Linked DNA regions of Homo sapiens. The protein of the gene in region 2 interacts with the protein of the main gene of each other region in a biochemical or structural test. Each region holds a gene or a part of one and is shown on either strand. Other genes may lie near its edges. The genes, in order: OTUD5 and SLC7A11.

The links.
Region 1: of the proteins of SLC7A11 (region 2) and OTUD5, one has a biochemical effect on the other in vitro, tested with the Homo sapiens proteins (one study listed by BioGRID).

What each region holds. Positions count from the first base shown.
Region 1 is NC_000023.11:48,928,543-48,944,690, forward strand, and holds part of OTUD5 (OTU domain-containing protein 5), read right to left. Parts: intron 15,742-16,148; coding exon 15,648-15,741; intron 7,810-15,647; exon of another isoform or gene 7,649-7,809; intron 6,477-7,648; coding exon 6,412-6,476; intron 6,326-6,411; coding exon 6,169-6,325; coding exon of another isoform or gene 6,154-6,168; intron 6,071-6,153; coding exon 5,922-6,070; intron 1-5,921. UniProt on the Homo sapiens protein: Deubiquitinating enzyme that functions as a negative regulator of the innate immune system. Has peptidase activity towards 'Lys-48'- and 'Lys-63'-linked polyubiquitin chains. Can also cleave 'Lys-11'-linked ubiquitin chains (in vitro).
Region 2 is NC_000004.12:138,234,150-138,250,121, forward strand, and holds the start of SLC7A11 (cystine/glutamate transporter), read right to left. Parts: upstream 8,201-15,972; 5' UTR 7,921-8,200; coding exon 7,644-7,920; intron 2,303-7,643; coding exon 2,176-2,302; intron 1-2,175. UniProt on the Homo sapiens protein: Heterodimer with SLC3A2, that functions as an antiporter by mediating the exchange of extracellular anionic L-cystine and intracellular L-glutamate across the cellular plasma membrane.

The DNA.
Region 1 (16,148 bases), on a different chromosome or scaffold from region 2:
AAATTGGCTGCAGGTGGCTCACCCCTGCAATACCAGCACTTTGAGAGGCCAAGGCGGGAGGATCACTTGTCCCCAGGAATTTGAGATTGGCCTGAGCAACACAGTGAGATCCTGTCTCTACAAAATAAAAATATTTTTAAAGTTAGCCAGGCATGGTGGTGTGTGCCTGTGGTCCCAGCTACTTGGGAGGCTGAGGTGGGAGGATTGCTTAAACCCAGGAGGTAAAGGCTGCAGTGATATTGTGCCACTGCACTCCAGCCTGGGCAACAGTGATACACTGTCTCAAAAAAAAAAAAAAAAAACAGTATGAAAAGGCTACATACTGTATGATTACAATTATATGACATTCTGAAAAAGGCAACCCACAAAGACAATAGTGTTTGCAGGAAGAGGGAGGAAGGGAGGGGTAAGCATATGGAGTATGAGGAATTTTAAGGGTGGTCAAACTATTCTGAATAATACTGTAATAGTAGATACATAACATTACACATTTGTCAAAACCCATAGAATGTACAACACAAAGAGTGGACCTTAATATATGCTATTTAAAAAAAAATTAGGAAGGCTGGGCACGGTGGCTCATGCCTGTAATTCCAGCACTTTGGGAGGCCAAGGTGGGTGGATCTCCTGAGGTCAGGAGTTCGAGACCAGCCTGGCCAATATGGTGAAACCTGTCTCTACTAAAAATCAAAAAAATTAGCTGGGCGTGGTGGCGCGTGCCTGTAATCCCAGCTACTCGGGAGGCAGAGGCAAGAGAATCACTTGAACCACGGAGGCTGAGGTTGCAGTGAGCCGAGATCGCACCACTGTACTCCAGCCTGGGTGACAGAGCAAGACTCTGTCTCAAAAAATAAATAAATAAATAAAATAAAATAAAATAAAAATTAGGAGATCTATGGCCAGCGCGGTGGCTCATGCCTGTAATCCCAGCACTTTGGGAGGCCGAGGCAGGCAGATCACCTGAAGTCAGGAGTTCGAGACCAGCCTGGGCAACATGATGAAACCCCGTCTCTACTAAAAATACAAAAATTAGCCAGGTGTGGTAGTGCATGCCTGTAATTCCAGCTACTCGGGAGGCTGAGGCACGAGAATTGCTTGAACCCAGGAGGTAGAGGCTGCGGTGAGTTGAGATCATCGCACCACTGCACTCCAGCCTGGGCGACAGTGAGACTCTGTCTCAAAAATAAATAAATAAAAAATTAGGAGATCTGAGATCCCAGCATAGAATGCAAAAATGTGACAAAATAATACAAATGTATTACAAACATGAAACAACCTTGGCCGGGCGCGGTGGCTCACGCCTGTAATCCCAGCACTTTGGGAGGCCGAGGCGGGCGGATCACGAGGTCAGGAGATTGAGACCATCCTGGCTAAGACGGTGAAACCCCGTCTCTTACTAAAAATACAAAAAATTAGCCAGGTGTGGTGGCAGGCACCTGTAGTACCAGCTTCTCGGGAGGCTGAGGCAGGAGAATGGTGTGAACCTGGGAGGTGGAGCTTGCTGTGAGCCGAGATCACGCCACTGCACTCCAGCCTGGGCGACAGAGCGAGACTCTGTCTCAAAAAATAATAATAATAAAATAAAATAAAAATAAACACCCTCATTTGAAGGGGGTGGGGGTACAAGTAGGTCACTTTCAAAATGAATGGAGTCTGTAACACCAAAGGCAAAAAAGAACTATATGTAGCATTGAGCTATAGTGATAAAGTTGTTTCCCACGGGGGTACGGGTGAACAAGTGTGATTCTGCTACGCGTGTATATGGAAATGAGCAGTTACATAAATGGATGGTAGGAACCAGTGCATATACATCTGATGGCGTATCTACTGTTGGAGAGGGAATTTGCAGATGAACAAGGGGAGAAGGCTAGAATGAAGCATGTGATAATGGATCTGAGTTGGAGACATCAGTAAGGATTCATGTTTAATATAAATACAGATGGTTACAGGTAGAAATATTTATAGATATGTGTACAAAGGCCACTATACATACATGTAGCTCCTTGCTCTATCAGCTGACAGGGCCTAGAAGCATGGACAACCTGATATCGAAGAGCACATTCAACACCTAGGTCTTGATTTCTGTTAACAGTCTCCAATACATGCCAGGGCTCTCTAAAGAAATGGCTGATTGAGCTGGGCGCAGTAGCTCACACCTGTAATCCCTGCACTTTGGGAGACCGAGGAGGGTGGATCACCTGAGGTCAGGAGTTCGAGACTTCAGCCTGCCCAACATGGTGAAACCCCATCTCTACTAAACAATACAAAAAACAGCTGGGTGTGGTGGCGCATGCCTGTAATCCCAGCTACTCGGGAGGCTGAGGCAGGAGAATCGCTTGAACCTGGGAGGCAGAGGTTGCAGTGAGCTGAGATGGCGCCCTTACACTCCAGCCTGGGCAACAAGAGCGAAACTCCCTCTCAAAAAAAAAAAAAAGACCATATTGATGTACGTAATAACTGGAAAAATTAATAAATTAAGGATGAGTTAAGGATGAGACACAGATCCTCCTTAAAGATTTCCAAATAATCTATGTAGATACTCTACCCTCAAGGGGATGGGGCATAACCATTTCTTAGGCGTGGGCTGCACATAGTGACTTCCTTCCACACAGTACAGTATGGAAAAGGTGGGAAAGAGTAACCTTAGGTGGAGAAACCTAACAAACACTACTTCTGCCAGTTGATCAAGGGTAACACCAACAGGCATAAATGACACTCATAGTATAAACCCTTGAAATGATGTAATGACAATGGCACTTTACCTCTGTGATCTTCCTCCCTAAGACCCACAACCCTAGTTTAAACATGAGAAAAAGTCCAAAAGAGACATTTCCTACAAAATATTTGATCAGTACTCCTTAAAACTGTCAAGGTCATCAAAACAAAACTGAGAAACTATCAAAGATAAAGGGGCCTAAGGAGGCATGCAGATTTCATTTAATAGTAACGTATTAGGCTGGGCATGGTGGCTCACGCCTGTAATCCCAGCACTTTGGGAGGCCGAGGCGGGTGGATCACCTGAGGTCAGGAGTTTGAGACCAGCGTGGCCAACATGGTGAAACCCCGTCTCTACTAAAAATAGAAAAATTAGCCAGGTGTGGTGGTGGGCACCTGTAATCCCAGCTACTTGGGAGGCTGAGGCAGAAAAATCGCTTGAACCCAGAAGGCGGAGGCTGCAGTGAGCCGAGATCGCCTCATTGCACTCCAGCCTGGGTAACAGAGAGAAACTCTGCCTTAAAAAAAAAAAAAAAAAAAGTATTAATGTTGGTTCGCACATTGTAACAAATGTACCATAATGATTTGAACTGTTAATAACAGCAGAACTGGGCTGGGCGCGTTGGCTCACGCCTGTAATCCCAGCATTTTGGGAGGCCGAGATGGGTGGATCACCTGAGGTCAGGAGTTCGAGACCAGCCTTTGACATGGTGAAACCCCGTCTCTACTAAAAACACAAAAATTAGCTGGGCGTGGTGGCGGGTGCCTGTAATCCCAGCTACTCGGGAGGCTGAGGCAAGAGAATTGCTTGAACCCGGGAGGCAGAGGTTGCAGTGAGCCAAGATTGCGCCATTGCACTCCAGCCTGGGTGATGAGAGAGAAACTTCGTCTCAAAAAAAAGATGATAATAATAATAATAATAATAATAATAATAATAATAATAATAGCAGAACTGTGTTTGGGAAGAGAAGGATATGTGGGAATTCTGTATTATCTCCTCAATTGTTCTGTAAATCTAAAACTGCTCTAAACAATTAAGTCTATTAAATACAAAAACTTAAAACATTCATTTTTATTTTTTCTTTCAGACAGAGTCTCGCTCCGTCACCCAGGCTGCAGTGCAGGGGTCAAATCTCAGCTCACTGCAACCTCTGCCTCCTAGGTTCAAGTGATTCTCCTGCCTCGGCCTCCCAAGTAGCTCGGATTACAGGTGTGTGCCACCACACCCGGCTAATTTTTTTTTGTATTTTTAGTAGAAACAGGGTTTCATCATGTTGGCCAGGCTGGTCTCGAACTCCTGACCTCAGGAGATCCTCCCATCTCAGCCTCCCAGTGTTGGGATTACAGGCGTGAGCCACCGCACCTGGCCAGAACATTCATATTTTTGAAGAAAGAAAAAGAGGAAGCTGGGTGCAGTGGCTCATGCCTGTAATTCCAGCACTTTGGGAGGCCGAGGCACAAGGATCACTTGAGCCCAAGAGTTCAAGGTCAGCCTCGGCAATATAGTGAGACCTTGTCTCTACAAAAAAAAAAAATTTTTTTTCATTTTTTTACAAAAAGTTTTTTTAAAACACTGGCCGGGCATGGTGGCGAGCACCTGTAGTCTCCCAGCTACTCGGGAGGCTGAGGTGAGAGGCTTGCTTGAGCCAGGGAAGTGGAGGCTAGCTACAGTGAGCCTAGATTGCCCCACTGCACTCCAGCCTGGGTGAGAGAGTGAGACCCTGTCTCTCCACCCGCCCACCAAAAAAGAAAATGAGCCATTAAACCAGGACAAGTCACAGATGAATCTTAAATGCATAGTGTTAAGTGAAAAAAGCCAGTCTGAAAAAGCTACATACTGTACATTTCCAATTATATGACATTCTAGAAAAGGCAAAACGAGAGTCAGTAAACAGATCGAATACAAAAAACAAGAAAATTCTGAGAAACTGTCACAGCCAAGAGGAGATAAAGGGGACACAACAACTAAATATAATATGGCACCCTGGATGGGATCCTGGAACAGATAAAGGTCATTAGGGAAAAACTAAGGTAATCTGAGTCAAGTATGGTCTTTAGTTAATAATATGTCGATATTGGCTCATTAACTATGACAAATGTACTATGTTAATACATTAATCATAGCGAGGCATATGGGAACTCTGTAATATATTTGTAACTTTTTTTTTTTTTTTTTGAGACAGAGTCTCATTCTGTCGCCCAAGCTGGAGTGCAGTGGCACAATCTTGGCTCACTGCAACCTCTGCCTCCCAGTTTCAAGTGATTCTCCTGCCTCAGCCTCCCAAGAGTAGTTGGGATTACAGGCACCCACTGCCACACCCAGCTAATTTTTGTATTTTTAGTAGAGACAGGGTTTCACCATGTTAGCCAGGCTGGTCTTGAACCCCTGACCTCAGGTGATCTGCCAGCCTCGGCTTCCCAAAATGCTGGGATTACAGGTGTGGGCCACCGTGCCCAGCCTCTTTGCAGTAATTCTGTAAATCTAAACCTGCTCTAAAATTAAGTTTATTTAAAAACAAAACAAAAAAGAACCCTATGTTGGAGGGTGTGTTGGTGTTAGGCTATGTGTTTCCGAAAATGAAGCAGGAGTACTTTGTGTTTGTAGAAGTGAAACCTGAATAGAAGATACCAAAATCCTCAGCAAATGACTGTAAGAGAGAGAGAGAGAAATGAATGAGAATCTATCGGTATGTGCTGGGAAAATGCACTGCCACCTTCTGAACACCTACTAGGCCCCAGGCCCAGTGGGAGGTGCTTTCTGTATCAGCCAAGCTGCCAGCCTGGAATACTTACAGAATCTGCCTAGATCACACAGCCAGTGAGTGGTGGGGCCAGGCCTGTACCCCATGTCTCTGTGACCATGGCTGTCTGTAACCACTATGATCCCAGGAGAAAGATCCATGCCAAGATGCCCAGAGCAAGCCCTGGCTCACTGCTCCAAAATAGGACTCCACATCCTAAAATGCCAGCCCTCAACGGGCACAAAAGATAGGTAAGCCAACTCAGACAGGCAAACCAAGACCAAAGAACAAGCCCTGAGAGATCACCTTAAGTAACTCCCTATTTTTTTTTTTTTTTTTGTAAGGGTGAGACCTCAGGGGAGAGAGGAGACAGGATATTTTTGTGAGTTAGGGGCAAAACAGACTCCAACAGAGGTTTCTGACCTCTATATCCAGCAGCCATTCTGGGCACAGGGACCCACTCACCCCTGGTTTGAATGATGGCAGGCCCAGCCCCACACCAATGGTGGCCTTGTTAGGATTCACCACTGAATTATAGTGGATATTCCGATGGTAGCTAACACGAATGGGTTCGTCCTCGTTTTGATGTATCCCATGGAATGTGTTGATGGGTTCTGCAGAGAAAGAGAAGGAGGGAGCATCCACAGCAGGCCAGGTTGGGCAGGCTCGAATGAGGCACCATCTTTCCCTCACCTACCCACTGCAGAAGTACCTGTGCTGTACTGGTACACCTCCACAGGACGGTTGTACATCTCTGCCATGGCCTGCATCTCAATGTGGTTGCCATGGCAATTGTTTTTCCGCTTCCTGTTAATGTAGGTGGTAAAGTCCTCTGTGACATAGTTGGAGAAGTAGTCGGCATTCTTCATCTGCAGAATAGATTGGAAGGTTAAGGTCTGTGTGGAGAAGAAATCCTCCCACCCTGCCCCTTCCCCAAAGGCCTCCATTTTCTCACCAGATAGTCCATGCAATGCTTTCGCACAACCTCATGCATGTCCTGGTCTCCATACACCTGGTCAGCTGTGGGGGCAGAAGAAAGCAGCAGCTAGGGTCAGAGATGCCAGAGAAGAGCTCTGAATCATAGAACATCCTTTGGGGAGGAGGAACTGGGGGACCAGGGAAATTCCCTTTTCTACCCCAAGGCCTGGAGAGTTCTTGCCCTTGTAGGCTAGAACGGGGTCATGGAAAAATATGGCAGGCAGGGCCAGACTTGAAGAACAAGAGAGTGCAGGTGAGAGGAACACATCCACAGGCCTCTTGGGCAGATGACTTTGTCTAGGGTACACGTGGCCACTCAGAGAAATCAACAACATTCTAAGTTCCACAGGTTGGCCTCAAATGCTATTGATTCCCACACCCCCTTTGCTTTCCACATGAGGAAACTGAGGTTCAGGGGGAGTTTGTGGTTTGTCCAAGGTCACAAAGAGTCAGTCTGTGACAGAGTCAACTCTGAATTCAGTTTTCCTGACTCCTACAAGTCAACATGGCCTTTGTAGGCTGAAAAAAAAGGGAACAAAGACAAAAAAAGGAAAGAAAAAAAAATGGGCTCCAAGCCCAGTTCTGCCAGATACTAGAGAGTTGAGTGACCAGAGGCAAGTGACCCAAGTGTTCTGAGCCTCATATACCTCATCTGTAAAATGGGAAAAAGAGGGATAACAGGCCAGGCGTGGAGGCTCACACCTGTTATCCCAGCACTTTGGGAGGCCAAGGTGGGCAGATCACTTGAGGTCACGAGTTCGAGACCAGCCTGGCCAACGTGGTAAAACCCCGTCTCTACCAAAAATACAAAAATTAGCCGGGCATGGTGGCGGGCGCCTATAATCCCAGCTACTTGGGAGGCTGAAGCAGGAGAATCGCTTGAACCCAGGAGGCAGAGGTTGCAGTGAGCCGAGATCATGCCACTGCACTCCAGCCTGGGCGACAGAGTAAGACTCTGTCTCAAAAAAAAAAAAAAAAAAAAAAAGGGATAACCAAATGGCAGGCCTTTTGTGGGGATTAAATGAGATAACGGGTATAAAATAACTACCACTGGGCTTGGGACAGAGTAGCCACAGAGTAAATCAGAATTCCTTCCTCCGTAGGGAGGCCTGAATGTGGGGTACTGTGAAGGTGACAGAGGTGAGTAAAATCCTGCCCCTACCTTCGGGGAGCACACAGTCTAGTAAAAGAGATAAGACACACATGCAACTAACTTTAGCTTAACTCAGGATGGGCAGCCTGTGGCCCGAATAGTCCAGGCGTCGTGAGATTTGGTCAAACTAAGGCGAGAAGGAAACACACTCCCTCTGCTTCGCTTGAGGATCTTCACACATGCCGTTCCTTCTCTTCAGGACGCTCCTTCCATCCTCGTCAGCTGCCTACTTCTCAAACACCAATGTGTTCTTTATTTATTTATTTATTTGAGACAAGGTCTCGCTCTGTCGCCCAGGCTGGAGTGCAGTGGCGCGATCATAGTTCACTGCAGCCTTGACCTCCTGGGCTCAAGCGATCCTCTCGCCTCAGACTCCCAAAGTGCCTGGATTACAGGTGTGAGCCACCGCGCCTGGCCCAACATGTTCTTTAATACAGTTCCCCACTACCCAGGACACCTCTATCACCAGATTTATCAAAGGTGTGCATAGACTTCTGCCCGACCACACTGGGCTCCCACAGAAGGCAAAGGGCAGTTCACACCAAAGTCCACCCCCAGCTCAGGGCCCGATACAGTAAAGGAAATCAGGAAAAGTTTACTGAGCAAATGGATAGGCTGGGTAAGCCAGGGAGCTCTTCTCCCTGTGAAATTAAAGTGGGCCTGAAGATCATGCAAGTCTGATTTCCACTGGTTTTGGGAATTTCCCTTTGTTTCCCCAGAGGACCACTGCTCTGATGGGATCTCCCTGGGGCATGGGGCTAGGGTCAGGTCACACAGGAACACTCCTGAGTTCTTCCCTGTCAGTCTACCTCTCTGAAGAACTGTCAGAAGAACACCTTCCCTGCCTTCCCCTTCCTACCCTGGAGTGTTCTGTGAGAAAGGCTACTCTGAGATAGAAAATAGGGCCCATGTTTGTCTCCAGTCCTCTTGGAGGTGAAGAGACCTGAAGGGTAAGGGGGTGTGGAGGTTGTGAAGGCGGGAAGGGGGGTAGCCCCTTCACCAATGTAAACAAGGATGTGGGTTCTGCGGCCACACTCTCCCCCGCCCTCCCCAGCGGCATTTCCAGCAAGTCACATGTCCTGCGCACAGGCTGGGGGCCCCCTGCTGCTGCCTTTCTTAGAAGCCAGGACCACAGAGCCCGCACAGTGAGCTACTTGGGGAGCTATTTCTGTAGACTGAGCTTGGGGTACTGGGAGGCAGTGCTGTTGGCAGCTGCAGTAAACAGGAACAAAGATGAGAATGAAGGGGTTAAATAGGGGTTGGCTGGCCAGGCTCAGAGAGATAGGCTGAGGTGCTGGAGAAAGCCCATCTCCTATGGAAAGGTCAACGGTCATTTCCAGGCCTGGGAGTTCTATCTTCAAGAGCTAGATGCCAGATGCAGGAAAATGGGGAAAGAGAGGAGACTGTGGAACAGGGAAGGGATCTGGGGGAAAACCCCCTGAGGGTCCCATTTCTCTGCCACTGACCCCTTTGCCTGGCAGAAAGGCTCTGCTGCCTCCTAGCTGTGTAGCAATGGATAAGGCCTTTAACCTCTCTAAGCTGAAATGTCCTCATGCATAAGGTGGAGACAGTAACTCCTCTTCCATCTGCTGGGTGTTGTCAAAACTACACAGGAGGTTTGCCAAGCACCTAAGGCACAGTAGGTGGTCAAGAAACAGGAACACAATTTGTCATGACGACAATGATTCCTTCATATGCTAGTTACCCACGAGTCAGCCAGAATGTTGCCATAACCACTTATGAAGCCCTTCCTCATTTCTGTTGCAATTCCTCAGCCAGAGGAAAGCCCCAAATGCAGACCTAGGATGCATGTCCTCTCCTGGCTCTCTACCTTTAGCGAAACCAAAGGTCCACAAGTCTACCTCTAGGCCGTTAGTTCTAACAAAACTTCAGCAGTTAAATTAATATCGAATTAACAATACAGGCTTCATAAAACAGGGTCCTAAAGTATGGACGAGTTATGACACTTCTTTACTTATCTGTAAAATGTAAAATACCACCTTCTCTCCTCAATCCTATGATGGCACTGATAGGTGATATGGTATAACATGTACCTAATCACAGCTTTTGAGGGGGGAAACACACCACACTGATTATAAGGTATACCCTAAGTTTGGAATCATTAACGTGGAAGAAAATATACATCTCCAAACCAAGGAAAACAGCAATAGTACTACCCCAACAAGGGAGAATAGAAGGATTTCTCCAATAATATAAGGCAGGAAAAGCATCTAAGCACAGAGCTAAACACATAGGAAGTACTCAACAAGAATTCATTTTTGGCCAGGTGTGGTGGCTCACGCCTGTAATCCCAGCAATTTGGGAGGCCGACGCAGGTGGATCACCTGAGGTCAGGAGTTCAAGACCAGCCGAGCCAACATGGTGAAACCCTATCTCTACTAAAAATACAAAAAATTAGCCAGGCAGGGTGGTGGATGCCTGTAATCCCAGCTATTTGGGAGGCTGAGGCAGAAAAATCGCTTGAACCCGGGAGGTGGAGGTTGCAATGAGCCAAGATCACACCACTGCACTACAGCCTAGGCAACAAGAGCGAAACTCTGTCTCAAAAAAAAAAAAAAGAATTCGTTTTTCTGACTTTCCTAGCTCCACCTCTGTCCTCCAGAAAGCCCTCCTCTTCCCAGAAGGCTGGCACACAGGGCTGGGGGCCAGGCTTGACTTCCCTGTGGAGGGGTCTGAGGTTGGGGGGATGACCTGCAGAGGTAGGGGAATTCAGAGAACTTGTTTTGATAGAAACTGAAACTCCTCCTCTTGCTGACGCTGCACTTGTGGGCAATCTGCACCTGTTCTCCCCTCCCAGAGGCCAGCTGGAAGGGGGTCCCCCACCATTCTACCTCTGTTCCCATCTCAAACAGGGCTCAGAAATCCTCAGTACAATACTACAATTGGTCCCACACCAAAGACTTTTCACACTCCAACTCATTCTATCCTTACCAAAACACTCTTACTTTACCCAGGAGACACAGAAATGTGGCAAAGCTTGCCTGGGATCACAGATTTAGGGGGAGTGAAGGGGAGGCCAGGCTCTCAAAGGGTAACTGCTGGCCCCAGCTGATATTACCACCTTCACCCCAATCCAGCCACCATCTTAGTCACCTTACTCCCTGGGGCAGGACCTGATCTTGTGTGCCTCAGTTTCCACACCAGCACAAGCAGGAATCAGCTAGAACCCAGGAAAGGCATGGGAGAGGGCAGAGATTATAGATATCAGGGGCTGCATCTCTCCCTAGGGCCACAGAGGCCAATATGAACCTTACCCTCCCCATACACACCCCACTTCTTTCCTTTTTCTGGACACACAGAGACACCAGTATAGAAATGCACATGTGTATACACATACAGCAGAGACTGCCAAAGATGCTCCCTGAGGCCAAATGCTCACCCAACAAATCCCACAACAGAGAACTATCACATTCAATGAGTAGATGCCCTTGCCACTTCAGGAAAGACTGAAGATGTGAGGCTCTATAAACTGAGGGACCCCCTACCCCACCAACCTCCTTCCTGGCCTCTGGCAGGGTAGGTGGAGGGCAGGGGAAATAACCAAGAGCTCTAACAGACTAGCCTCAACCTCTCTCCTCTGTTGCCCGGGGGAAGTCCTTATGTAACTAATGTAATGTAACCAATAATGTACCCAGATTTATGTTAAGAAGCAAGACATGAGAGCCTGGATTATCTTCCTATAGGGTCCTACCATTTGCTTTAGAGACATCTGAGAACTGCCTACTCCCCAGGTAGCTGCCTGCCTCCCAGAAGAGCCACAGCAAGTTCCGCTAAGGGCAAAAAAGGAAGCTAGGTGTCTACAGGGAACCTAAAAACAAACCACACTAACGTGTGTACACACAGCTGCAGAGGGAGACAGGGACCTGGTCTGCTCCCCACTACCCTCCTGGTCCAGTGGGAACCCTGGCCCCACTGAGAACCAATCTCCTGAGGAGATGAGCCAGGACAAAGGTCTCACTTGCCTGTCAAGCAGCTGTGGTGTGACCTGGTCTGTAGCCCCAACTACCCCAACTAGCATACCCTCAGTGGGAGAGACAGAACTCATCCCACTGGATAGTCTGGTTCCTGAGATGTGTGCTCCTCTGCTCAAGGATTCCCACTGCAAGGATGAGAAACCTGAAGGATACACGGGAGAGGCTGAAGGAAGCTGGTGTACAGGAAATGGCCCGTGGGAATCTTCTTTCTGTGGCCTGGTTCAACCTCAAATACCAATGTTCTGACACTGGTTGTATGACCTAGATAGGGTAGGGTCTTGGCTTTCTCTTGAGGCCTCAGTTTCCCCATTTATAAAACAATCAAAATTGATCTCAGATCCATCCCTCCTAGTGCTGATGTTCCAAGACCAAAAGGCCCAGAAGAGTGGGCCTAGCTAATGTTTCTGGGCCTCATCGTGGTAACATGCACAGCCCTTGCCACTCCCCCATGGCCCATGTAGAAACAACCATGTGGCCTTCACTCTGCCCACAGAAGCTAGCACCAGGACCCTGGTCAGGGTTAGAGGTTTCTGCTGAGTCAAAGCCACATGGAGGGAGGGAGCAAGGGAGAGATGCAGAGTCATGTTTCCAGGAGGAGGTTATCTGAGCATAACAGGGACAGGGTGGGCCACAGGATACCTCTGAGGCTCAGGTTCCCACCTCCACTCCACCCAAGCCTTCAATGATGCTCATGAATCCCCAATAAGAGGAGGTGGGAGAGAACTGAGCGCAAGCAATGGATATTGCTTAACTCAGGGGAACCAATGGCAGGCAGGCAGCTACCTGGGGAGTAGGCAATTCTCAGAAGTCTCTAAAGCAAATGGTAGGACCCTATAGGAAGATAATCCAGGGGAACAGAAGGCAGAAAGCCACCTGCCTCAAGACTCCCAACAACAGAGGGCCACGTGCTCCTACTTGGAGGAGGTAAGGTCCAGAGAAGTCAAGGAACACAGCCAAGGTCATCCAGCCAGTTGACAACCAAGCTAAGAAGCTAAGGATCCTAGGATCATAAAAAGAATGTGTCCTGGCCGGATGCGGTGGCTCATGCCTATAATCCCAACACTTTGGGAGGCCAAAGCGGGTGGATCACAAAGTCAGGAGTTTGAGACCAGCCTGACCAACATGGTGAAACCCCATCTCTGCTAAAAACACAAAAATTAACCAGGTGTGGTGGTGCACGCCTGTAATCCTAGCTACTCAGGAGGCTGAGGCAGAAGAATCACTTGAACCCGGGAGGCAGAGGTTGCAGTGAGCCGAGATCACGCCACTGCACATTCCAGCCTGGGCGACAGAGGGAGACTCCATCTCAAAAAAAAAAAAAAAAAAAAAAAAAAAAAAAAAAAAAAGAATGCGTGTCCTTTGGACACCTCTGGGTTCCCAGGCCAGCTCTGGCTAATGGCCCTGAGCATGTCATTTCCCTTTCTATGCTTCAATCTTTTCACCTGTCTCATGGGATAATGATCCAAGTTTTGCAGTGAGCCTGAAGCACCCAGCTGAATGCCTAGCACACAGCAGGGGTCAAGGAAACAGTGCCCTCTATGTTTGCAGCCCCCGCCCAACTCCAACTCTCTGCTCCACGTTCCTTCCACTATTCAACACATGGCAGGAAGTCAGCCTGTAGGGCTTCACACTACAGTCTAAGCTGACTGCCATCTGTCCCCATCCAGGCGAGGCTGGAAACGGGGGCAGCAAAAAGCCCAGGGACAAAGTCCCCTTCCCAGGCACATGTATTATGCACTCTGCACCAAGGAAACCTCCAGATAAGGTCTAGAGACCAAGGGCCATGTACTTCGGGGGAGAGGCCAGAGGACTTCTGAGGTTTTACAGAGAAAAGCCAAAGGCAGCCCAGTCAGGGGAAATGTGTAGCCATAGTGCCGATAAGGAAAGGCCTTCAACCTGCCCTGGTCAGCTCTTCCTGTAAGTAGAGGCCCCTTACTGAAGGCCCCAGTGGGAGGAAGGGTCGGGAGTATTTGGGGAGAACAGCTAGATACATATAGACACACACACACACACAAATACTGCTCTTGATACGAGTTACTACAACAAGCCAGGTCCTCACTAGCTAGCCCCAAGGGTCGGGGGTATTTGGGGAGAACAGCTAGCTAGATACACACACACATACACACACACACACACACACACACACACACACACACAGAGAACAGCTAGCTAGATACACACACACACACACACACACACACACACACACACACGGCTCTTGATATGAGTTACTACACAAGCCAGGTCCTCACTAGCCAGTCCCAAGGCTTACCCTCAATGACTGCCCAAGACTCAGATGCCCGCTGCATTCTCTAATCCTAACTCCACCAGAAGCCCTGCTTACCCCACATCTAGCCTGAGGTCTCAACACAGGGCCTAGCACCTAACAGGCCCCCACCTATTCTTTCTTTGCCTTTCTTTTGTCCAAGATGCCCCGAAACCCAGCTCTTCCTCTGGGAAACATCCCAGGGAAAACACAAACTTGAGCCAGAGGGGTAGGAGGGATAAGTTTTTTCCCAGTCCAATAGAGCCCATTGCCTGAGCCTCTTCTGCTTGGCAGAATAGAGAGGAGACCATTCACTCCACCCTTTCAACAAACACATGTGACTCTGAGGCACCAGTGAAAATGGCATCTGGGTTTTACAAATGCTACTGTTCCATGAGGGTCTACTATATGTGTCAGGCACTAAAGGGATTTACCAAAGCAACTTCATTAAATCGTTACAGCATTAGGGTCTTTTAGCCCCATTTTACAGATGAGGAAACAGCCTCAGGAAAGAAGAGCTGCTTGCCTAAGGTCATACCAAGAATCAGTTGTGCAGCCAGGGATGGAGCCTAAAACACCCCAGCCCACCAGTAGACATGGGGGGTACCCACAGACGGAGAGAATAGCAGACCAAGAAGGAACTCAAAGAGGCATTGAGAATCAACACCATTTCACAGACGGGAAGACCAAGGCCAAGTGTCACAGCAGTTATGAGTCAGGGCCAGAACTAGAAGGTAGGTCTTCTGACTCCCAGCTCAAAGCTCCTATCAGAGGGCACTTTTCCTTGGTAGATATCAGAGAACCACAGGGAGGATCAGGTCACATTCCCAGCTTCCCCTTCACCCTAGCACAGGACCTCACAACTACTTGTTGGGTCACAGATTCAGAGCCAAAATGGCCTCAAAGATCTAACTCAGACTGGATAACAGATGGTATTAAGGCATTATTAATTCTGTTAGGTGCAGTAATGGCATTTTGATTATGTTAAAAAGAAGAGAGTAAGTCTGTATCTGTCAGAGAAACATACAGAAATATTTATGAATGAAATGATCCAATGTCGGGGTTTTGCTTTAAAAATACTCTTCTTTCAGGGGAGTGAGAAAGAGTGGGCGGGATAGTGATGAAACAAGGCTGGCCACGTATTGACTATTTTGAAGCTGGATGATGGGTACATGAGGGTTCATCATTCTCTCTACTTTTATATAAGTTGAAAAAAAATTCTATGATATAAGAAATTTGTAAAGATCTAGTCTGATAGCCCCCATACACACAGATTGAGGAACAGAGACCCGCAACACACCAGAGATGGGATCTGGGTATAAACCTAGGGGTCATACAGCCCAGGGTGGCAGCAGTATGCTATGGTTAAGAGCATGGGCCTCAGACTAATCTAACCCAGACACTGAATCCCAACTCTACCACTTATTATTTCACTCCAGACAAGTCACCCACCATCTCTGAGCCACTTTTCTCATCTGACAAATGGAAGCAACAGTAGTCCCTACACTCACCTAGCTTAGAGGGGAATCAAAGAGGTTTCCTGTAGCACCTGACAATGTGTCCCAAAGGATATTATTTTCTTTATCATTCTTCTTGCTGTTATTATGCATATTAATCTTGCACCACTACAATGTCTCAAGACCCACGGCTAGAGGTCAGATACCAACTTGAGGCTGGAGCCTAGAGTCCCTAAAAGATTAGCTAGCTCTGCCTCAACCCTGTCTCAGGGGCTATTCCTGATAACTGGGACACAGCTTAGGGGCAGCCCTAGGCCCTTAAGGACTAAGGCAGAGACTCACCTACAGCCCGGAAGAGACAGGCGCCATCCTCCTTCATCTGCTTGATGATGAAGCCCTTCTTGTCTCGTAGGGCCTTTTCAAACCAATGCTCCTGCTGGAGGGAAGAGGTGGGGGTCAGCAACAGGGAAAACCTGTACTCCCTCCCCAGGGCCCCGACCTCAAGCTCCCGAGAGGCCTAGATCATTGACAGAGAGGACGCTGGCCAAGGTAAAGTTCTCAGCCCTGTTTGACCACTCCATGCATGTGAAGTAGGAGACTCTTTTAGGGAATTAGTTGCTGAGTGAAACTAAGACTTACTTCCAAAAGGGTCCTAGGTGCCCTGAGAACAGTGGCCCCATATGCCTTATGGCTTCTGTTGACCTTGCAGGGCCTGGCCCAGGGAGCCACACTGCCTCAGGCAGCCAGAGACTCAGACCCAGCAAGTGCCTGGGTGGAGAATGTGGCTCTACCTCAAGGAGTTTCATCTAGGAAAGGTGGTGAAGAGGGGGTAACTAGCAAGAG
Region 2 (15,972 bases):
TTTACCTCCAGTGTTTAGAACAGTGTCTATCATATAGTGGAAACCCAATATATATTGAATATATAGTGCACACGCAAATTCGGTTTAATGACCCCTGCTGTGTACAGATAGATAATATTTCTGTCCTTGAAATCTGTGTTTTACAGATTATTTCTGGCAATACTAACTTAATCTAAAGGTATAATTTTAATGGGAAGTACTTAGGAACTATGGGTATTAGTAAAAGAAGAGAAATATTTACATACTTAGATATTTTGTCCCTCCTCATGTCATTTGTTATTCTGCCTATTTAAAAGGCCAACTCAGCAATATGAGTATGTTATGACAAAGAGATATATGAACATATTTTAAAAGCTTCTAGAATACAAAGGTACTTTCCTCTGTCAACAGACACACACACACAGAGAAAAGTAGTTTTTTTTTTTAAATTAAAGTAACATTTGATTATCCGCTACCTGGGAGCAGAAATTGTGGCTGATTTCATTTTAGATCTCTTTTTATTGCCATTTACCATTCAGTAGCAGTTTGTGGAATAAATAAATTAATATATGAATATTTTATCTGTGCTACTGTAAGATATAAGCTATATTTATATGGAATGATCATGTTCATCATAATGCTAAGCAATGAGCCAAAGTTACACAACTAATACATGGCTGAAGACGGAGTCAAGTCCAACTGTATTAAGCTCCAAAGCCCGCCAGCCTGACAGGCCAGCAGTCAATAAGTAGTACATGCATTTGAATGCTGAGTATGTTGTACACAATATATTGTAACTTTAAACTTTCAATTACTTATTCAAAAATAATTTAATATATGCCAAAAAAAGGGCACTGACCTAAGTAGTATATGGGTTACAAAAAGATCTTATCTTTGTATGCTTGAAATGTTGGCAGTTTTAAAAGGGAAACAAAATATAGACACCTAAAATATTAAGGAAGAATAGAAGGTATCATGCTCAATGCCAAATGTGAAGCAGAGATAGAATTTTCAGAAGAATTTAGAGATGAAAGAAATAACATAAATTAGAATAAACAGGAAATTAATTGTGGGAAAGAAAGGATTTAAGATGACCTTTGAAGAGCAGATAAGATTGAGATAACCAAAAGGAATAGAAGTGCATTCCTGATAGAGGAATTTCAGGAAAGGAAAAAAATACTTATTATTATTTCATTATAACAATTTTAAATAATGCAGAGTGTTTAAAATGAAAAAGCCTTCATGAAGCATATACTACTTTGAAGATCTTTTTTTGGTTAAAAAAAAAAAGACTTCTAACACTGTAAAACTCATGATTAGTGTTGTCAATACTTACTAGCACTGTATTTGGCACTTAGCCATAAAAGCTCACATGAACTCTCAATCACATATGTTTGATAAGTTTGATAAGAGCAAGTTTCCCTAGTAATATCCATTAAATTCTGTAATCAGACTGTGCACATCACATTTTATCAAAGTAGTTAGCCTTAAGGAACTGTGATACTCTGAAATGCTCATATGACATCATAAGCTTCCCACAAAGTCGAAGGAAATTTGCTATTCAGAGTGACTTAGCACTATTCAGTGTGATTTTAAACCAAGACAAGCAGGAATGTAAACACATTGTTACAACAATAAAATCAAAAAAGACTTTTGGAACTGTAGTTCCTAATCTGTTTAATATAAGGAAATGAGTCATTTGACTCTGTCATGCAAACTCTGTTTTTTATGAAGTATAAGACTTGGTGACCAACTAAGTTGTGAGGCACAGAAGTGTCTTGGTCACAATGACTAAGTAAAGTTAAATGCCTTAATGATATAATCTACAATAAGAGAAAACTTCAATATTTAATTTGGTCTAGTTGGTCAAAAGGTATCCAGGTGAATTTTCATGTTCATATTCTTTCAAGTAAGCATCTTTCTCCTGGAAGTGTCAAAGAGAATAGCTGAGGGTCAAAGAAAGGTAGATATTTCTAAAAGTTTGGCATTGCTGGTGAACTGCTTGTCAGTGATAAAATTGCATTAAAAATATCTTAATTCAGAAAGGTACTTTATCACAGGCTTTATATCCTGAGGTAGACATGTTTATCATGTAGTCACATGACATGCATGTGTCTAACCAGTTAAAAATAATCAAGGTGATTCATAAGAATGAATTGGTTTATTTTTTCTTAATTCTTTCTACTATGCTCTTACCGTATTATGAGGAGTTCCACCCAGACTCGTACAAAAGCTGGTAATGGACCAAAGACTTCCAAAATATATGTGTAATGACCTCCAGATTTCTTTATAGTTGTTCCCAATTCAGCATAAGACAAAGCTCCTGTGAAATATTTGTCACAAAATGGTACCAATTTAATACATTTTCAAGACACCCAGCATTAGAATAGATACAATAATGTTTATATGTTGCCTGAGATGTAACTGCCTCCTTTGGTCTGAATGGCATCCTTACTCAAGACAAATAACCATCATCTAATTGCTAAGACCCGCCAAGTTCCTTTTCTAACATCCTCACAGTTGAGATTTAGTGTATTCTATTTGAACACTATAATTTTACTTGAAATGACAAAGATACATGTCTGCAACAATATCATGTGTTCCAGAATTTTGAGCTGAAAACCTGGAAATAGGGGAAAAAGAGGAGAGAGATGTCAATAATATTGACCTATTTTTAGAAGAACACAACCTCACACCAAGACAAGGCATTAGTCCAAATGTTTGAGTTAGCTTTTAAGTTTTTTGAGTTATTTTTTGAGAACCCTTTTAATAAATTATGTTTCTGTGGAAAATCAAAATGAACAAGCTGTATCCACTCTTTAGAAAACCATGGACTCTCTGACTTGCAAGATTTCTTTTTTTTTTTTTTTTTTTTGAGACGGAGTCTCACTCTGTCGCCCAAGCTGGAGTGCAGTGGCGCGATCTCGGCTCACTGCAAGCTCTGCCTCCTGGGTTCACACCATTCTCCTGCCTCAGCCTCCCGAGAAGCTGGGACTACAGGCGCCCGCCACCACGCCTGGCTAATTTTTTTTGTATTTTTAGTAGAGACGGGGTTTCATGGTGTTAGCCAGGATGGTCTCAATCTCCTGACCTCATGATCTGCCCGCCTTGGTCTCCCAAAGTTCTGGGATTACAGGTGTGAGCCACTGTGCACGGCCAAGATTTCATTTAATTTGTAGGATATATTTTGTCAACAAAATGAATTCTGACTCTGTTTCTATAAAAGGCTATCTTGGATGTTTTTTGAAGTGTACTCTCTGGGTGTTTTTTTTTGTTTGTTTTTTGTTTTTTTGAGATGGAATTTTTGGTCACCCAGGCTGGAGTGCAATGGCGCTGTCAGCTCATTGCAACCTCTGCCTCCTAGGTTCAAGCAATTCTCCTGCCTCAGGGTCCCGAATAGCTGGGATTACAGGTGGCTGCCACCACATCTGGCTAATTTTCATATTTTTAGTAGAGACAGGGTTTCACCATGTTGGCCAAGCTGGTCTTGAACTCCAGACCTCAGAAGATCCATCCACCTCGGCCTCCCAAAGTGCTGGGATTACAAGTGTGAGCCACTGCGCCTAGCCAGAATATATATATATATATATATATATATATATATATATATTTTTTTTTTTTTTTTTTTTTTTTTTTTTTTGAGATGGAGTCTCACTCTGTCCCCCCAGGCTGCAGTGCAGTGGCACGATCTCTGCTCACTGCAACCTCTGTCTCCAGGGTTCAAGTGATTCTCCTGCCTCAGCCTCTCAAGTAGTTGGGATTAGAGGTGCCTGCCAGCACGCCTGGCTAATTTTTTGTATTTTTAGTAGAGACAGGGTTTCTCAATTTTGGTCGGGCTGGTCTCAAACTCCCGACCTCAGGTGATCTGCTTGCCTTGGCCTCCCAAAGTGTTGGGATTACAGGCGTGAGCCACTGCGCCCGGCCCAGAATATACTTTTTAAAATGAGGTGCTATAATTTATATTTGTGTACTTTAGATCAAATTAACTATAAGCTAAATTTTTAACATTTAACGATACAATTCACATAAAATTGGACAAATATGCAACTCCCCAAAACCTCAGTTTCACTCTCTGTGAAATGGAGATCTCAGCTTCTACCTCATAAAGGAGTTGTGTGTATAAATGTGGCAGCGGGTACCTAGTACAGTACATGGCCTGACACATGGCAAGCACCACATGAAATATAGCTATACTTATTAATTTGAGTAATTAACAAGAAAATTTAAAAAAATCCTGTCATTATGTGAAAAGTTCTATCTGTACTGCCAAGTGCTCAAATGTAAGAACACAATTTTTTTCCAATCTACTTCTGAGAATAAAAGTGTAGAAAAGTACTACTGATTAGTAATAATTTAGACAGAACTGCTCAATATAAATATAATTTGGATATTCAGTGAAATCTTAGTGTTACATATTTTATATCTGATTTCTAAACTTATCATGACATCAAAGTCACCTAGGAATAATTTTTTTTTTTTTTTAATTTTTGAGATAGGGTATCACTCTGGCACCTAGGCTGGAGTGCAGTGGCACAATCTTGCCTCACTGCAGCCTCTGCCTCCTGAGCTCAAGTGATCCTTCCACGTCAGCCTCCCAAGTAGCTGGGACCACAGGTACACACCACCATGCCCAGCTAAATTTTTGTGTATTTTTTGTAGAGGCAGGGTTTTGCCATGTTGCCCAGGCTGGTCTGGAACTCCTGGGCTCAAGGGGTCTGTCTGCCTCAGCCTCCCAATGTGCTGAGATTATAGGCATGAGCCACCATGCTCAGTCTGGGAATAATTTTTAATTCGAAAACACTCAAACCAAAAACAGACTCTAATCAAGAGAGTATAGATTGTCCACAAGAGAAATTCAAGAATCTCTATCATTTTAAAATTTGTACAAATAATTCTAAAGTAACGAGTCTGCAGACTAATATTTGGGGAACACTGATGTATTTCATCTACCTATAACTAATTTTAACTAGTTGCAACTCACTCTCCATGGGGAAACATTCGCCATGTTGGTAGGCTGTCCAGAAAAGGATCCAATATAAAATGTTATTGGGAAGAGTCTTAAGTACCTCAGAATTTATTGTCAGAGAATCAATACCTAGACCTCTATATGCTTTACTGAAACTCCAGGATGGTTGCCCTAGGTTTAAACTGAGTTCTGGGGGAATGATTTTCATTTAAAGGTCTCAAGCTTCATAACCATTTTGCCCAGATGAAAAAAGTTCAAAACAAGATGTAAAAATCCATGTATTGACCCTTCACTTAAAAAAAAAGTATATATATGTATTAAACCAAATGTACAGATTCTTTACAGTTGGTCCCAAAGTTCTAGAGTCTTTTTAAAAAGAAGGATTATTTTTTCTTCAGATTTTGCTTTGCTTGCTGTTACAGAGGCACTCCTGTCCAAAAGCTTCTGGTAACTTAAGTGACAAATGCAATGCAAATAAAGATAAGTAGATTAATACAAGAGCACACTCCCTGCAATTACTAATCAAAGAATACCAACTCAAGTGTAATGTTAGCTAGTCTCCTTAGCTGTTTCTCTCTTTTTATTTTTTTTTGAGCTTTTGCTTCAGATGATATGTAATACTTATGCATAAGCATATTTTCATAGTGCAAGTCAACACACTTTAACTAGTTCAATACTCATACTGATCTATTTTATTACATCTGAATAATCTTTTATTATGTGCAAAAATTGAATCACATAGTGGAAGCTGCATGCACATAAGTACGCAAAGTCCAGTAAACTGGTTGTGGTTTTTCTGATTAGATATTGATTTATTCTGAATATATAAAGTGCTGTAGGAAGATTTAAAGGCTGAGGGTGCACAAAATCATTTAAGATGATCAACAATTAGGTTTCTCTTTTTCTATAAGTGCATATACCAGAGCTATTTTAATATTAATAGTGGCTAAGGGTACTATTAGAGTTTTTCATAATGATATTACTCCAAATTATTTTATAAAGATGGGAAGTAATACTGGGAAATAATGATACACAATTGTTACTGAATATTTAATAAAGCACAAGTTAGTTATAAATAATACCACAAACTCTCTCTAAAAACCCCAAATAATTCCTCTATAAATCTTTCTATACTACTTGTTTTAACAAGTTCTATTTAAAATAACTTCTTCCTAAAAATGGAATTTGAGGACCGGGCGCGGTGGCTCATATCTGTAATCCCAGCACTTTGGGAGACTGAGGTGGGTGGATCACGAGGTCAGGAGATCGAGACCATCCTGGCTAACATGGTGAAACCCCATCTCTACTAAAAAATACGAAAAATAAGCCCAACGTGGTGGCACACACCTGTAGTCCCAGCTACTCGGGAGGCTTAGGCAGGAGAATTGCTTGAACTTGGGAGGCGGAGGTTGCAGTGAGCCGAGATCACACCACTGCACTCCAGCCTGGGCAAAGAGCGAGTCTCTGTCTCAAAAAAAAAAAAAAAATGGAATTTGAGTTCTCTAGATGAGTGTCAAACCAATGATTTAAAACATCACAAGGCCTGAGTAGAAAGAATGAATTGATTGGTACACATGGGAACAGGAGTTAGTACTTGTTAATTAGTCCTAGAGTTAGCGTTAGTACTTGTTAGTTAGTGTTAGTCCCAGAGTTAAGACAAAGAGCAACTTTAAAGTACAGAATCTTTCCCAAGAAGAGTAAATAAATCCTCATAGCATAAATCAAATTTAATGTTTGACAGTTCACCAGTTTTTATCATCTTTACAACAAACTCAGGTAGCTCTCTAGTAATTTGCCTACTCCATAAGGGGGCATTTATTTACCTCTTTACTATTAATTCTCAGATCAATAGAAGAGACATAAACTTTGAAGAAAAATTCATAATTATACTTCTGCCAGTTCCCTTCAGATTAATTTAGTGAACAGGTGGACAAATTCTCTGTGTCCCTGGAGAACAAGTGAAATATAATGAAAAAAACAGATCTGGGCAAGTACAGAAAACTAACGCCCAACTGAAGTTTTAAAACTTATATTGCAAAAGTGTATGGGTATTGAGAAGAGATGAAAGGTTGAAAAGTAATTTGAAATATGCTCAGGCCATTGCAATATACCCCATTATGATAGGGATTGAGTTATGCGCCATCATACATCTCTCCCATGTCAAGGACTTTTGAAAGGATATTAAGAGGTGACAAGCACATGAACTTAAAAAATATTTTTATAAAGACTGCCACCCATTTGTTTGGCTAATAAAAAGTCAGTAAGACTTCTGCTGAACACTCCGTTCTATGTCTAAATAGCCCATGCCAGGTTCCACTTCACAGGTGTCTCATTCAGCATGCCAGCTGCCAGAATGCCCAAGCTAAGTGTACAACTGCCCGGCACAGAAAGTGTGCATGTTTTTTACTGGGTCATGAAAGTTAGCCTTTGCTCTCATCACCACAGAGAAAAGTCAGAAGATAGCCTGTCTTAGTCAGGAAAAGAAAGTACAGCCTGTAGGAAGCAATTTGAGGGTGTTCCAGATCACACCAACAGCGGATGCTGCATCTGGGTAGTTCACGTACCCGAACAAAAATTTTAAAAATTTGGTGTGGCCTTTGCCATCCATTCACTCCTCAAAAACTACCATTTGCTTTCCCAGAAAGCAAGCTTTCCAGCCCCACAGCCACGCCCCCACGAGAGAAAAAGTCGCACTCACCAAATAGTGACAGGACCCCACACACCGTCCAGATGGTCAGAGACATGCCCACGCTGCCCGTGTTCTGGAGCACGCCCTTAGGAGAGATGAAGATTCCTGCTCCAATGATGGTGCCAATGATAATGGAGACTCCCCTCAGTAAAGTGACTTTCCTCTTCAGCTGCACTTTCTCCTGCCCAGGTGGCTCCTTGTTGCCCAGGGAAGGCAGCCTCCCGTTAACATTTCCCTGCAGGTAACCTCCTTTGGAGATGGTGGACACAACAGGCTTTCTGACCATAGTAGGGACACACGGGGGAAAAATAAAACAGAGGGAAAGAAAACAAAACTTTCAACTTTGGTGTCTCTTGGTGTTACTGATCGATGTCTTCCTCTGCTTTCAGACTGTCTCTCTCAGCGCTATAGTGTTCACAGGTGAAAACTCAAAGGTGTGCTTTTTCCTTCACAGCGATCTAATTACTACTCAGAAACACCTGTGTATGCATCGTGCTCTCAATTCTCCACCTCCTCGTTCCACCACTGCTGCTGCTGCTGCTGCTGCCGCCCTATCATTACAAACCAGCTCAGCTTCCTCATGGGCTTGTATTTAAGCGCCTGCCTGTCACACCAACTTACTACAGCTAAATGATGATGCAAATTCTCCAGGTTTGCATCAGCCACATGAGAAGCCTCCAGCATTACTCAGCTCTTTTTTTTAAAAAAAGAAAAAAACAGGAGGAGCTTGTTGCTCAACTGACCTAAGCTTTTTAGAGAACAAAGCACACACTTTAAAGAGATTTTAGCCAATCCAGAAGTAGTAAATTCGGAACAGACCTTCCCAGAGATTTAAAGCAACTCGTAGTGAGCAACAAAAGCTGTTCAAACAAAATGAAACAGGAAATAGTTACTTCATTTTAAGGAGTTTCTTTTTCTTTAATGCGTGTATAAAAACATTTTACATGCGACTGTTTTGTGAGTAGAATGTATCCTAAAGCTACATTGTTTATAACAACACAGTTTGAATTTCATAATTTGTGTAATGCTTTTTATTTTTTTATTTTGAGTTTTTTATAAGGCAATACAGTCAAATCCAATATTTACAAAATTAAAGATTCTACACTTTATACTTCTGTCACATACACACAACTATAAGCCTTCCTCAACATTAAAAGATAAAATTATTTCTTACTACTCATAATAAACCAGTATTTTAAATCACCATCCGAGTGTGACTAATACAAAATTCACCATGACTCCAGAAAATAGTCATTTTCTGATTCTCATTAGCACTAGGTGATTTTTTTGAACTATGTAAAAGATACATATCCTTCATTGTCATGTTGTTCCTTTGAATTACCAAAAAAAATTTCTAAGTTCAAAATTACACAATTACAATTACATAAAAATATGTATATAGCAAAAGCCTGTAAAGGAAAACAGAATGGTAGTTATAGAAAGTAATGATATTATGTATGACTTTTTTCCACATTATATAAACTATTGTTATTATTATAAATTTAAAATGCATTAAAAATGTAAGCTAAATTAAAATATTTACTTTGCAATAGTCAAAAAGGCAAAACATTTTTAAACCCTTCTAACTTTCTCAACCAAGTGTCAAGAAAAAACAAATATGAAAAGAAAAGAAATCCTAGATATCATTTTTGGCTATAGTTACATGTGGTTTTGGATTCAGTGAGAAGAATTGAATGTTATCATTACCCTGAAGCTACCTTTATACGCACCATTAAATAAGCTTCTGAACCTTTGAACAAAAACCACAAACAAAAAGCCTGTGTGCGAGAGGTTGGCAGGGAAAGAAGGGAGTCAAGTATGGTGAGGATGATCAAAGAAAGAAATGAGAAATCGCCATTAGGAAAGTAGCATGGAAAAGGTCAGAACCATTTTCTGTTATGTTGACACCTGAGAAAATGACACCACCTCAATGCTTTGCCATCCAAATAATTGAGGCTACATTTTCTCCTTTTTAAATTATCTATCTAAATTCTATATAATTGGTTTCAGCTACACCAAGTTAAAGTTTTTATAAAACCAAAATAAATACTTTTTCTCAGTTGTTAATGTCTTTCAAAAAACAAAAATGGATCATTTTCCTCATGCAATCCTGCTAAAACTCCCAAAGAAGGAAGCTAAATAGAGATTCTTTTCTTTCCAATTCTCTTCCTCCTCCTACATCTCCTTTCACTCACACAATTTTCCTGATTAATGGACCTAAGGAGCAGCTCTTCTTTCCCAGTAAGAGAAACATATTAGCTCTGAAGAAATATGAGGTAAAAGTAGGACACTAGGAATCTCAGGGAACAGCAACTTTCTCTAATTAACACAGTGTCACACTTTAATTTTAAATTTTGTTATAAATAACTGAACTCATAAGTTGAGCCAAAGACCCCACTCAGATAGGAAACTGAATGAATTATAAAGGACGATTATTCTTTCAATATTAAATAACATTTTCCTCCTCACAGTATTTTTTTTTTAATTATGAAGAAAAATGGCTGATGTTAGACTAAAAACCAAAAGGATTGTACTTTCATGTAAGATAGAGGCCACCACTCAGAATGTTTGCAAAGCTGCACATTGCTGCTAAGGGCACCAGTGTACCTCTTCTAAGCACCCCAAAATCTGTAGAAAATGCAGTTTATAAAGAAAATGTTGAATTGCCTTGAACTCTTAAAATTGCCAGTTCTAAGCTTGTAAACTAAGAGTTTGGATGGTCCTCAAATACTTGTGTATCATAAAAATGTGTTCAAAGCAAATGAATACATATTTTTCATCCTGTATTAGGCCTTATTTTAAGTATAGCTGTCAAATTATGAGACTATCCTAGTGCTATTCGCAAATACTTATTTACTGCTTATTGTGCACAAGAAATAGTCCTAGCTTCCTCACAGCATCTCGTAATAGAAATAGAAATAATGTATACTGGTAGCTACCGTTTTCTAGTAACAATTTCTGTCCCATGGTTATAAATACAGGCATATCATCTAGGCCTGGCCAAAAATAATCCAGTGCTCTGGCTGCAGAGTATTGGAATATTACCTGAGCTGGGATATTTCTAAACAGAATTAGAATCAGCTTTTTTCATCTGTTGTTGGAGATTGTAAAGATGTGATCTGACAACAACTGGTGGCCATGTTCCCTGGCGTGTTGCAAATATCCTCACAGAATAACAGAGAATGTGCAGAAATTAGAGATATTCAGAAAGTCCTAGTACTATCATGCCCTATGTTAGTTCCTAAGGGACCCAGATTGGCTCGGGATCCTGAAGACCTTCATTTGCTTCTGTAAGCTACCTAGTTTCCTTGCTAGGTATGCTACCTAATAACACACACAAAAGTCAATTGCACGTGGATCATGGAGCTAAATTTGAATGGTGCATCATGAACGCTTCTAGAAATGGGTCACCTGATATGATAATAATTAGTTACATGTGGTTATCAGCCCTTGAAATATGACTAGAACTTGAAGTCTTAAAGAAAAATAACAAAAAAGTTATTAACAATTTGTATTATTCATACTAGTTTTACCTATTTTATTTATTATTATGGCTACTAAAAATTAAAATCATATCCGTGGTTCAAAGTTGTGGCTTCCATTATAATTCTACTGGACGGTGCTGATCTAGAGGAAAATGCAGAATATATTTCTAAACTTTGTGTAAGCAGGGATTTCTTAAAAGGGACACACAAAGCCCTAATACAAAAAAGAGAAAAATACAGTGTAATACATTAAAATTAAGATTTTGAGTTTATTGAAATATATTATTTGATTATAAAAGTGAATCTTAAAATGGGACAAAATATTTGCAATTTGCAAAGGTCTCATATCCAGAATAAATAATAAGTTTGTATAAATAGGAAAATGACAGACAACCCAATAAAAAATGGCCAAGAAATTTGAACAGATGCTCAATAAAATAGTCAATTCATTTGTAAAAAACTGCTCAACAGTATTAGCTATTGGGGCAATTAAAACCGAAACCACAATAAGCCATCAATTCCCACTGAGAATGGCTCACATGAGACAGACTGGCAATACCAGGAGTACTGACAGCATGGAGCAACCAGAATTCTTACACTGCTGGTGGGGGGACACAAATTGGTGCATCCATTATGGAAAGCTGTTTGGTGTTATCTTTTAAAGTTAAACAGACACATACCCTTTGAACAAAAAAAACCCACTCCTGGGAATATGCCCAGTAAAAATGCAGGGCATCTATATGCCAAAAAGCTTGGATGAGAACATTCCTAGTACCTTTATTCATTTGAAAATAACCCAAATGTCCATTAACAGTACAACGGATATATGTATCATTGTATTTATTTAGTGAAATACTGCAATGCAATAAAAAAAAGGACGAACAATAGTGATATAAAAAAACAATATGGGTGACTCTCACATAATGTTAGAAGACAGAATTAAAAAGCATATACTGCATGGTTCAATTTATATAAAGTTTAAAAACAAGTGAAATGATTCTATAGTCTGAGAACTCTCTGGTTATCTTTGGAGATAAGCATTTCTAGTGATTGCGAGGGGGAACAAAAACAGTTCTAGAGTCCTGGTATTGTACTATTTTATAACCTGGGTAGTAATTACCTGAATATTTTAACTTTCTGACAATTCACTGAGATTTACATTTATTTTATTTTATTATTTTTGTTTTGAAACGGAGTCTCACTCACTCTGTTGCCCAGGCTGGAGTGCAGTGGTATAATCTCGGTTCACTGCAACCTCTGCCTGGTGGGTTCAAGTGATTCTCCTGCCTCAGACTCCTGGGTAGCTGGGATTACAGGCATGTGCCACCATGCCCAGCTAATTTTTGTATTTTTAGTAGAGATGAGATTTTGTTATGTTGGTCAGGCTGGTTTTGAACTCCTGACATCAACTGATCCACCCGCCACGGCCTCCCAAAGTGCTGGGATTATAGGCATGAGCCACTGCGCCTGGCCTACATTTATATTGTTATACCTTTCTGTATTTATGCCATAACTCAATTATAAAAAAAAAGCACAATAGTTGAAAATTTGTGATATTCTTTCAGAAACAGATTGCTCAAGCAGACAAATAAGCAAAACTGTAGAAAATTTGGAGAGCATAATTAATCAACTCAATAGAGTTACTTTATAGAGAATTTCCCATCCACCAAATAAAAAATAAAGATTATTTTCAAGCATATATGAAACATTAACAAAACTATCCGTATCGAAGACAAAAATGAAACCCCAGTAAGTTCCAAAGAATCAACATTGTGTAAACTATACACTCTTACTATAAACATGCAACAAAATTAGAAATTAATAGTTATAAAACTAATAAAATAAATCTTATATGTCTGGAAATTAAAAATCATACTACCAGCTGCGTGCAGTAGCTCATGCCTATAATCCCAGCATGAGGCTGAGGCAGGAGAATCGCTTGAGCCTGGGAGGCAGAGGTTATAGTGAGCTGAGATTGTGACACAGGGGGACTCTGTCTCAAAAAAAAAAAAAAAAAAAACATACTACCAACTTATCTTTAAATTAGAAAATAGGCCCTGAGAAAAAATTCACAAAATACTTAAAACTGAATAACAATGAAAACCATATGTTCAAATTTGTTAGAGTAGATTAAAGAAAACTTAAAGGAAAACTTAAAGCTTCAAGATACATTCATCAGAAAATAAAAGAGGAAATGAGCTCAATATTCAACAGAAAAATTTAAGTAAAAACAATATAGTCAAAGAAGAAAAAAAGATAACTACAGAAATAAAAAAATTAAGAACAAAAGGGGAATAGAAAACATTCCCAATTGGAAAATCTAATTATTTAGAAAGAATAATAATTTAGATACAGGTTTGGCAAATGTAAGCAATAAAAAATTCGGAAATATATTAAATGTGAGTTTAAAAAAAGAGAAAATATCTTAGAGAGCTAAAGAGAATTTTTAAATAATAAAGGAGTACAGTGATCTACTATATGGAAAATAATGTGAAACTCAGAATAAAATGGACACATTTCTGGAAAATGAATCGATTCTATTACGTCATTAGAAAAAACAGAAAAACTGAATGGAATGGCAACTATTTATGGTGCTAATCAAGGATATCCCTGGCTCAAAAAAATAAAACCAAACAAAACTAGGTTCTACTTGTGTTACAGGTAAGGCCTACCACATTTTTATGAAATAAATAATCTCCTCCTTAGAGAAATTATTTCAGAAAGTGAAAACAGGAGGAAAAACTGCCAGACTCATTTTTGTGAGTTTAGTGCAGACATTGGCCTACTTCCTGTAAAAGGCCAAGTAGTAAATATTTTAGACTTTAAGGCTACCCATTGTCTCTGTCCATGTTCTGTGTATCTGTGTGTTTGTGTGTGTGTGTGTGTGTGTGTGTTACAGCCCTTTAAAAATATAAACATTTTTCTTAGCTCCTGTGTAGTTCGCCAACTCTTTGTTTAGCAATATCTTAACTGCAAATAAGGCATTACAAGGTCAGTGCAATGGGCTAATGACAGGAAGTTTTATAAATAAAGTTTTATTAGAACATAGCCATGCCCACTCATTTATATATTTTCTATGGCTGCTTTCATATTACAACAGTAGAGTTGAGTAACTGCAAAAGAGACTGAATGGCCTGCCAAATAAGAAATGTTTATAATTTGCCTCTTTACAGAAAAAGTTCGCTGACTCTGGCTTAAGAGAAGATACAGGAATTGACTATTTATTTCCACTTTGATGTTCTCTCTTACTAGTAACTCTCTTTGCATATTCAGTGCTTGCTATTCCTACAAGATAGGAGTTAAAACAAAAAAACTGTGAAGCAAAAACTATTATGAAGAGAGTCATTGTACAGATAAAATATCTTTATGCATCTAAGAACACAGCACAAAATATGTGAAGCACATACAATAAAATAACAAAGAAAATTTGATAAGCAAATGTTGAAAATTCAACACACTTCTCTCAATATTAAATCAATAGGAAAAAAATATTATCAATTGTAGGTGATAGTTGATGTTCTATAGAGATTTTCTCATATCACTTTTCTTATTTCTGGGTATTTGTTCCTTAGCTTCTGTTTTTGCTTAAAAAGGCATACCTGCGACTCTCCTCAGAGGACGGCGCTTAGATTAACGGAGCCACTTTTCCCATGGGGGCAGAGAGTAGGGATGCCTGGGAGTTTACATCCCTTATGGAATGTTAACAGATGTTAACCGATCACTCCTTGATTTGAGAATATGACAGTCCAACATACTTGCCTTTAGTTGAGACAATCTCCGGAGTTATTTTCCCAAGCTGCAGGATCAGGCTAGGCGTTTACCTGAAATTTTAGCTTTCTTTGTCTTTCCCGTCCGTGTTCTGCTTCCTGCACTCCCTCCACAGTATTCATAGAAGCATTTCCTTATTTTGTGGTATTTTTTTTTTTTAGAGAACTTGAATTAAGACAGTTGATATTGAACGTAGTCTAGAGTGCAGACTCAAAAAAATCTGTAGTTTACTGACTCACCTGCCAAATGGCAGTAACGAGCCCAACTCAAGTGACCAGCAGAGTATGGATAGCTGCTGTCAGGCTGCTGTATTGCAGTTACTAAGACTTTCACCTGGGATGAACTGGGATAGGGTACAGTTGAATAGGGATGAACTGCTTTGTGCATCCTCTAGTATTTGGGAATATTACAGTACTCTTCTTAATCTTAGAGATAAGATAAAGAAATATATTGTCACCTCTATCATTTATCATTTTCTATGCATTAACTGCTAGAATTAGACAAGAAAAGGCATGAAGAAGGAAAAAAAGAGCACAAAAACTCATTATTTTATGATTAATTACCTGGAAAAAATAAAACATTCAACAACAACAACAACAAAAATCTCTCCTACAATGAATTAAACCATTTTAAGATAATGTTTACAAATAAATAAATTTCCAAATCAGTACACTTTGTATATACAAACAAGTTACATGAAATATTGAAAGACGTCATACCATTTACAATAGCAACAAAGAATTTAAAAGCTAAGAATAAAATTAACAAGACATTTGTAAATTGTATATTTTTTAAAAACAGCTTGACCAGATAGAAAGATATGTCATGCTTTTTTTTTTTTTTTTTGCGACGGAGTCTTGCTCTGTCGCCCAGGCTGGAGTGCAGTGGCGTGATCTCGGCTCACTGCAAGCTCCGCCTCCTGGGTTCACGCCATTCTCCCGCCTCAGGCTCCTGAGTAGCTGGGACTACAGGCGCCTGCCACCACGCCCGGCTAATTTTTTGCATTTTTAGTAGAGACGGGATTTCACCATGTTAGCCAGGATGGTCTCGATCTCCTGACCTCGTGATCCGCCCGCCTCAGCCTC